2 linked regions of the Homo sapiens genome follow. The protein of the gene in region 1 purifies or fractionates together with the protein of each later gene. This does not show direct contact. Each region holds a gene or a part of one and is shown on either strand. Other genes may lie near its edges.

What was found.
Region 2: the proteins of TM2D1 (region 1) and DPY19L4 purify together in Homo sapiens (affinity purification with mass spectrometry; one large-scale study listed by BioGRID and IntAct). This does not show direct contact.

The regions. Positions count from the first base shown.
Region 1 is NC_000001.11:61,722,907-61,726,823, forward strand, and holds the start of TM2D1 (TM2 domain-containing protein 1 precursor), read right to left. Parts: upstream 2,236-3,917; 5' UTR 2,215-2,235; coding exon 2,051-2,214; coding exon of another isoform or gene 2,014-2,050; intron 1,524-2,013; coding exon of another isoform or gene 1,382-1,523; intron 881-1,381; coding exon 807-880; intron 1-806. UniProt on the Homo sapiens protein: May participate in amyloid-beta-induced apoptosis via its interaction with beta-APP42.
Region 2 is NC_000008.11:94,718,098-94,722,014, reverse strand, and holds the start of DPY19L4 (probable C-mannosyltransferase DPY19L4), read right to left. Parts: upstream 2,116-3,917; 5' UTR 2,017-2,115; coding exon 2,001-2,016; coding exon of another isoform or gene 1,779-2,000; intron 1-1,778. UniProt on the Homo sapiens protein: Probable C-mannosyltransferase that mediates C-mannosylation of tryptophan residues on target proteins.

The sequences.
Region 1 (3,917 bases):
CAGCTGTCTCAAAAATAAAAATAAAAAAAGTATTTTTCTCGCCTAGAGGGTTGTTTTGTATATATGGAGATTTCAAAGGAAATGACACAACTAAAAAGAATTTCTATCCCAAAAGAAGTCTGCCCTCCTGCCCTCCAGTTAGGTGTCCTCTGGAATAAAATGTTGAATCCACTTAAGAATTATTGATAAATAAATTCATAAACATGTAAAAAATCATTTTGGTGCCAACTGAATGTTAAATACACACACATAAACACATACCCCAAATCAAATAAATATAATCAAATATAAACCAAAGTAATATAATCAAAGTAATAGAAATGACATTTATCAAAGTGACATAAACGATAGTGATGAAGTTGCTGGGAAGCAGAAAGGACTTGTAGGTATTATGGCACTAGCCAAGAACTATCAGGTAAGTATTCATAGATGATATAAGTGGAGAGCTAAAGGAAAATAAAAGGAAGACTTTCCATGTGAGGGAATGATATGCTTATTAATTTGGGGAAAATAAAGTATATAAAATATAAGTACACTTGCCTAACTGAATCTGGGAACATCCACGTCCAGCCCTATTATTGTTTATATGGTGAAATTTCACCATTTCAGAACAAGTAAGATTCTTTTTTAAATTAAATACTGACAACCTCTAGGTAGTTCTCCAGTTTTAAGTTACTCTGGAAACTGAATAATAATGTTATCATTTAGAAAAAATGCATTTATTAATTGCCTTTAGTGATCATACATTGACCTATGAAATAATGTTTTTAAAATTATTTTTAAAGACATGTTTCTTGAAGTCTTACCATGAGCTGTGTAGTTTGTACAGTTAACTGGTTCTTGCGTAGCGTCATTTATTTTTGGATCTTTACAAATATATGTAAAAAAAAAAGTTAAGGAAATACGGACTACATTCCAACACAACACATTATCATGCCTTTACTATTCATATTATATACTCATGTTGATATTCACATGTAAATAGAGGCTGCTAGTTTGTCCAAGTCAATAAGCATATGTACAAATATACTTTTAGTATTGCTAAGTAATACTTGAGGCAGGAGGATCACTGGAGCCCAGGAGTTTGGGAAGAACAGCCTGGGCAACATAACGAGAAGTCTGTCTCTACAAATAATATAATAATACATAAACATTACAATAAACCTTTAAATTTGCCCCATAATTATCCACGTTTTTACTCATGAGAAAACAGAGTTCAAATAGGTCACCCAAGGTTGCAAAGTGCAACAGAAATTTATCCACTGAGTCCCCACGCGGTGGTTCATGGTGAGGGGGATGCGGATCGCTTGAGACCAGGAGTTCAAGACCAGCCTGGCCAACATGGCGTAAACCCCGTCTCTACTAAAAATACAAAAATTACCCGGGTGTGGTGGCGCATGCCTGTAGTCCCAGCTACTCAGGAGGCTGAGGCAGGAGAATTGACTGAACCCGGGAGGCGGAGGCTGCAGTGAGCTGAGATCGTGCCACTGTACTCCAGCCAGGGCGACAGAGTAAGACCCTGTCTCAAAAAAAGAAAACAGAAAGAAATTTGTCTGGCAGTCTACCATCTCATGAAGTTTGAAGATGACATGAGGTAATATGCATAATATACATAAAGTTAATGATAAATGGGCAACACATTGGCTAGATCGTTATTACTTGTCTTCCCCCTAGGAAGAGTTGGCAAACATTTCCAGGGTAAGAGACTATCCATCTTTGTATTACTAGTGTCTAGAACGGGGCCTGGCATACTTCAGGATCTACATGTTTTACTGAACAAGTAAGCACACTGATAAAAAAGAAAAAAAAAGTGGATCAGAAGAGGAAGCGCCAATGACTAGTAAAATCATAAGGAAATCACAAAGGGTGGCCTCTGGCCCTCCCATCTCCACAACTCTGTTCACCTTCAGGGATCCTTCAGTCATTAGAAGCCACAGATCAGATTATCGTTTTCACTCAGTACAGCCCTAGCCAGTCCTGACGGCAGCGACCCACCTGCGACCCCAACTCTACCTCGCCTCCATGGGGGGGTGTTCTCCACAGAGGATATTGTCCCACTTTGAGGTCCTCGCACTTAAGCGACTCCTCGCCCCCGGCGGAGGTGGCAACAGCCCCCCAGGGTCCTGTAGTGACTGAGACGAACCACAGGACACCAACGAGTCTGGCCGTCACGGCCTCCGGAGCAGACGGACCAGACGGCCAGGCGGCCGCCATCTTGGAGACCGACACTTTCTCGCCACTTCCGCTTCCGCCTCCGCCCAGGAGCGGGAGGGAGAAGGGCAACAGGGCGAGGTTCTTAAAGGGACCTCGCATAGGATAGAGGCCAGTTCCGTCTCTTCGCGTGTTCTTCTGCCCGTGAGCCCGTGGAATCACATTGGGAGACCCTTTTAAAATATGCATGTACCCAGTCCCTCGAGGCGAATTTTCCCCCACGAACCCTTGGAAGGAGCTAAGGTTAATCTTTGAGTGCTGGAGGAAGGAAACGAGTGGTTTAGGCAATCAGGTGCTTCACCCGCTTCTCATTCCCGCGCCCTTAGCTGAGGCTTCTCGGTCCTCTGAAAGTGCCAGCGGCGTCAGAGGTTGGAATCAATGCTTTCCTGACATCATCGCAGTTAGCCCTGATAGGTTTTGGGTTTACAGATAAGGAACAAGGCTCAAAGACGCTGAAACACACTGACCTTAATCACTAAGTGACTCAGTCGGAATGAAATTGATGTTTGCCAGATTTCAGATCTATGCTCTTACTAATTGACATAATGTCCTCCTGTAACTTTAGAGAAGGATTTTGGAAGGCTGCCACGAACAGAACTTAAAAACTGTGAGAGACATTACGCCTTTTAAAAAAAAAAAGTGACAATTTAGGTGGGGGATAATTTGGGGGGTGGAAACTGTAACAAGAGGAAACCAAATAGTTTATGATTAAGTGAAAAGTTGAAGATTTTTTTTCCTCCATCTGTTGTTTTTAAATTTCTATATGTTCTAAAAGTTCTGTGGTGGGGAACTTTAACAGTGAGGAAAAAATGTTTTCGTAAAGTTAAGTTTAATCTTTTTTTTGTCTAACAATATAAAAATTTGAACTTGAGTGGTGCTTCTTCATCCATACTTTAGCACTAACTTTGGTGGTTCTCAAACTTTGAATAGCATCTGAATCACCTGTAGTAGTTATTAAAACAGAATGATAGAACCGGCACTCAGAGTTTCTGATACAAAAGATGTAGGGAGGGACTGGATAATTTCCATTTCTAGGAGATCCCAAGGGATGTGGGTGTTGCTAGTCCAGGGACCCCCACTTTGAGAACACTGGTATAATGTTTTACGAGAAGTAAATTTTTTTTTTTAAGATGGAATCTCTCTCTGCCACCCAGGCTGGAGTACAGTGGCAGAATCTCAGCTCACTGCAACCTCTGCCTTCTGGTTCAAGTGATTCGCCTGCCTCAACCTCCTGAGTAGCTGGGACTGCACGCGTGCGCCACCACGCTCAGCTAATTTTTGTATTTTTAGTAAAGACAGGGTTTCACCATTTTGGCCAGGCTGGTCTCGAACTCCTGGCCTAAGTGATCTGCCCGCCTCTGCCTCCTAAAGTGCTGGGATTTCAGGTGTGAGGCCACACTGTGCCTGGCCTCATTTTGGAATATATATTCTGGAAGACATACAACTATTTGAAGTAATATTTAAACATAAACTACGTTTTTAAATTTTCTTTTTTTGAGGTGGAGTTTCACTGTTGTTGCCCAGGCTGGACTGCAATGGCATGATCTCGGCTCACTGCAACCTCCGCCTCCCAGGTTCAAGCTATTCTCCTGTCTCAGCATCCGGAAAGGCTGGGATTACGGCGCCCACTACCAGCCCAGCTAATTTTTGTATTTTTAGTAGAGACGAGGTTTCACCATGTTGAGCAGGCTGGTCTCGAACTCATG
Region 2 (3,917 bases), on another chromosome or scaffold:
ATCTCAGCCTCCTGAGTAGCTGGGACTACAGACACTTGCCACTCCACCCGGCTGATTTTTGTATTTTTAGTAGAGATGGGGTTTCACTGTGTTAGCCAGGCTGGTCTCGAACTTCTGACTTCAAGTGATCCACTCGCCTTGGCCTCCCAAAGTGCTGGGACTACAGGCATGAGCCATCATGCCCCGCCCATTTATCATTTTACATCACGTAAGTAAAATTTACAAAACGGTACAATCTTTTAATATTGGCTCCACAGATCTATTTAAGTACAACCATAGTCTAAAATAATTTTTCATTTTGCATGATGTATTAAAGACTTTCAGTATTGTAGTACTGATTTTTTAATGCAGTCTTAACTTTTTTAATGCTTTAAGTTAAGCATGAATGTACTCATAGGAACCTACAAGCTAGTATATCAACCTACCCCCATAAATTTGCAATTAGAAAAGAAAAATACATCAAGAAATATTTCAAATGATGATATACTGTAACCACAGACAGAACCAAGTAAACAAATGGAATTACATTCTTTCTCACCAACGACAAATAGCTTTGTTTTTGAAGCTGTTTTTAGTTAGAATGTCTTAAATTCAGACCAGCTTTAACACTCTGAAAACTCAATGGAAACAAATATGAACCAAGCCTGCATAGGGACAGGTCAGCAAGTCACACATCAGTAAACACTTCTTATGCTTAATTTTTAAAAATTGCTTTCCGCTGAATCCTTTAAACTCCTTCCTTGCACTCTTGATTCAGAAAGGCTTGAGTCGGCTGGACCCGTGGCTCACGCCTGTAATCCCAGCACTCTGGGAGGCCGAGGTGGGCGGATCACCTGAGGTCAGAAGTTCAAGACCAGCCTGACCAACATGGAGAAACCCCGTCTCTACTCAAAATATAACATTAACCGGGCGTGATGGCGCATGCCTGTAATCCCAGCTACTAGGGAGGCTGAGGCAGGAGAATCGCTTGAATCCAGGAAGCGGAGGTTGCGGTGAACCGAGATCGCGCCTTTGCACTCTAGACTGGGCAACAAGAACGAAACTCCGTTTCAAAAAAAAAAAAGGCAGGGGGGCTTGAGTCTAAATTAGATCGATTTACTATCACATCCACAGCTCCACTCATAAGGTAAAAAGTTGTGTTTTCCACCAGAATGCAAAAATCTAATTGCTTCTCACTTCCTGAAACTAGTAGGGGTTATCATGAAGTTACTATGCCATGAGTATTCCTTGTATTGTTTATCACTAACCGATAAGTTTCATCTAACTTCCCATTTTTGTCTCATACTTATCATTTTCTATAAATAAAATACTGCTGAATGAATTACTTATCTTAGCATTGATCCTGAAGGCGGCATGGAAACCTTTCTCCAGCTCACCCACTTTGACCCTCAAAGGCCTCCTGGCCTCATCATCTCCCAAAACTATAATAATTAGATGGCTCTGCTCTTTACCATTTTCCCCTGAACCTAAGTGAACTTGGCTTTCTTCAGTTTCTGCGTGTTCGCCCATTCCCAATTAATCTTGCCACGTTTATCCCAAATCCCTGCCTCTTTATCCCCGTGGTGAATGTTCCCTCGCCCCCTGTGCCTCTGGGTTTGTCAATATCCACAGCCCTTTAAAAATCGCATTCCAAATATGCACTGAGTACCTAAACCTGATCTTCGAAACCAAACTGCGCCTCCCACTTCACCAAGAATCTGATCAGGACCCTCCCTCTTTCCCAACCACTCCCGGCACAGCTTTCTCTCTTGCTACGGATTCCCAACTTTCAGCTCCACCTTTGCTTCCCAATTCGGCCGACAAAACTTCGGGCCATTTGCTCCGCTCTCCTGAATTTCTCCGCAGTCCTCTCCTGGGCGCCGCGCTCCTTCCCGCCCTGCCCGCGCGGCCGCCACCGCGACCGCGGCCACCAGCAGCTCCAACCCAGACCTCCAGCGCCCCCGCCCCTCCTTCCCGAGACCACTGGCAGCCGTTGGCGCGCTGGACCCCGCGGCAATCACCTTCTTCCTCCGCCATCGTTTCTGCGAAGGCTAGGGCGCCCTGCGGCTCCCGCGCGGCCCAGACTCTCCCTCCCTCCGCGTCGCCGAACCCCTCGGCCTCCGGGGGCCCGCTCCTGGCCGCCGCGCCCCCACTTCCTGACCCACCCCCCTCCGGTGTCGCCGCCAACCGCGTCCCCGCAGGCGGCCCGGGAACCAGAGTGTTGGGAGAGGGGAGCGGCCGGAGCGTTTCGCTGGGGCGCCGGGGCCTGCGCGGGCAGGAAGGAGACTCCACGCCGGGAGTGCAGCCCACAGCTGTAGCTCCTGGCCGCCGCCTGCCCTGGAAAGCGAGACTGGTGGGTCTCGCTGCAGCCCCGCCCCTCGTCCTACTCTTCCCAAAAAGTGAGGGCATGCTTTCCGCCACTTTTGTGACTCCGCGACTTAGCGAGTCAGAGACGATCATCAGCGACACCTCCCAGGTCCAGCCTCCATTCCCGCCCCATTTTACATGGAGGAAACTCAGATCTAATGTGGTGGAAGTCACAAAGCCGGTCAGAGGCAGAAGTGGAACCCGGTGCTCCAGAACTGCCATCGCTGCCTGCGTTCTCGCTGGGATTTCAGAGTGCAGCAGCAAAACGTTCTCAGTTGGCGCTTTGGTTTCGTAGGCCACTTGACCATTACAAGAAAGAAGCTTGTGCTTGGAACTTGTTTTAAATCACCAAAACTGGTTTAGCAAATATGTTGCATTTCATGATATTCTGGGGGGGGGGGCGGGGAGATAATACAATGGTCTGGGGTAGAGCAGTGTGCAATTAGATATTACAGAGCAATAGGGAATAATTTTAATTTGTTAAACTGTGTTTAACTTTCATTATATCTAGCATTCTTCAACAAACACCGGGATCTTTTCCCCAACAGTACTCAGAAGTAAATTTAGTAAATGAAATATACCCATTTTAGATCGGGAGAAACAGGCACGAGAATTCACTGAAGTCATGGGGTAATTATGGACACCCCATTATTAGCAGGCAGCAAGATTCTCCTAATAGCACCTTTAAGTTAGGATATTTGGGGAGAGGCTATCATTTTTCAGTGATGTGCAGAAACGGTTCCAGGAACTTTTTTTTTTTTTTTTTGAGACAGAGTCTCGCTCTGTCGCCCAGGCTGGAATGCAATGACTCGATCTAGGTTCACTGCAACCTCCGCCTCCCAGGTTAAAGCGATTTTCGTGCCTCGGCCTTCCCAGTAGCTGGGACTACAGGCGCAAGCCACCACTTAATTTTCATATTTTTAGTAGAGATGGGATTTCACCATGTTGGTTGGCCAGGCTAGTCTCCAACTCCTGGCCTCAAGTGATCCGCCCACCTTGGCCCCCCGAAGTGCTGGGTTTACAGGTGCCCACCACCACGCCCGGATAATTTTTTGTACTTTTAGTAGAGAAGTGGAGGGGTGTGGTTTCACCATGTTGCCCAGGCTGGTCTTGAAATCCTGACCTCAAGTGATCCACCGGCCTCAGCCCCACAAAGTGCTGGGATTACAGGCATGAGCTACCACGCAGGGCCTCCAGGAACTCTTTTTATGTCTGGTTCCCCGTAAAGATGTTTTTTGCCTTAAAACAACACTTTACCAGGAGTTAGAAACAGTGGACCAGAAAAGGCCTGGTGCCAGAGCCAAGAGAGCACAGAATATAAGGACCCTGAAAACCACAGGATATGGTAGGGTCCCTGGACATGAGCAACAGTACCTGAGTATGCTGCTTATCAGATCAGCTGACTGAAAGAGCTGCACCTCTTGGAAAACATATAGTAGCTATTGAGGTCTGCTGTTTTCTAAGTCTAGAGTCTTAATATCCTACAGTTTCTTCACGGTCACCTCAAGTTGACTAATGGACTAAATTTTAAGTTTGCCTGACCTCTACAATAACAGGGGAAAGAAAAATGA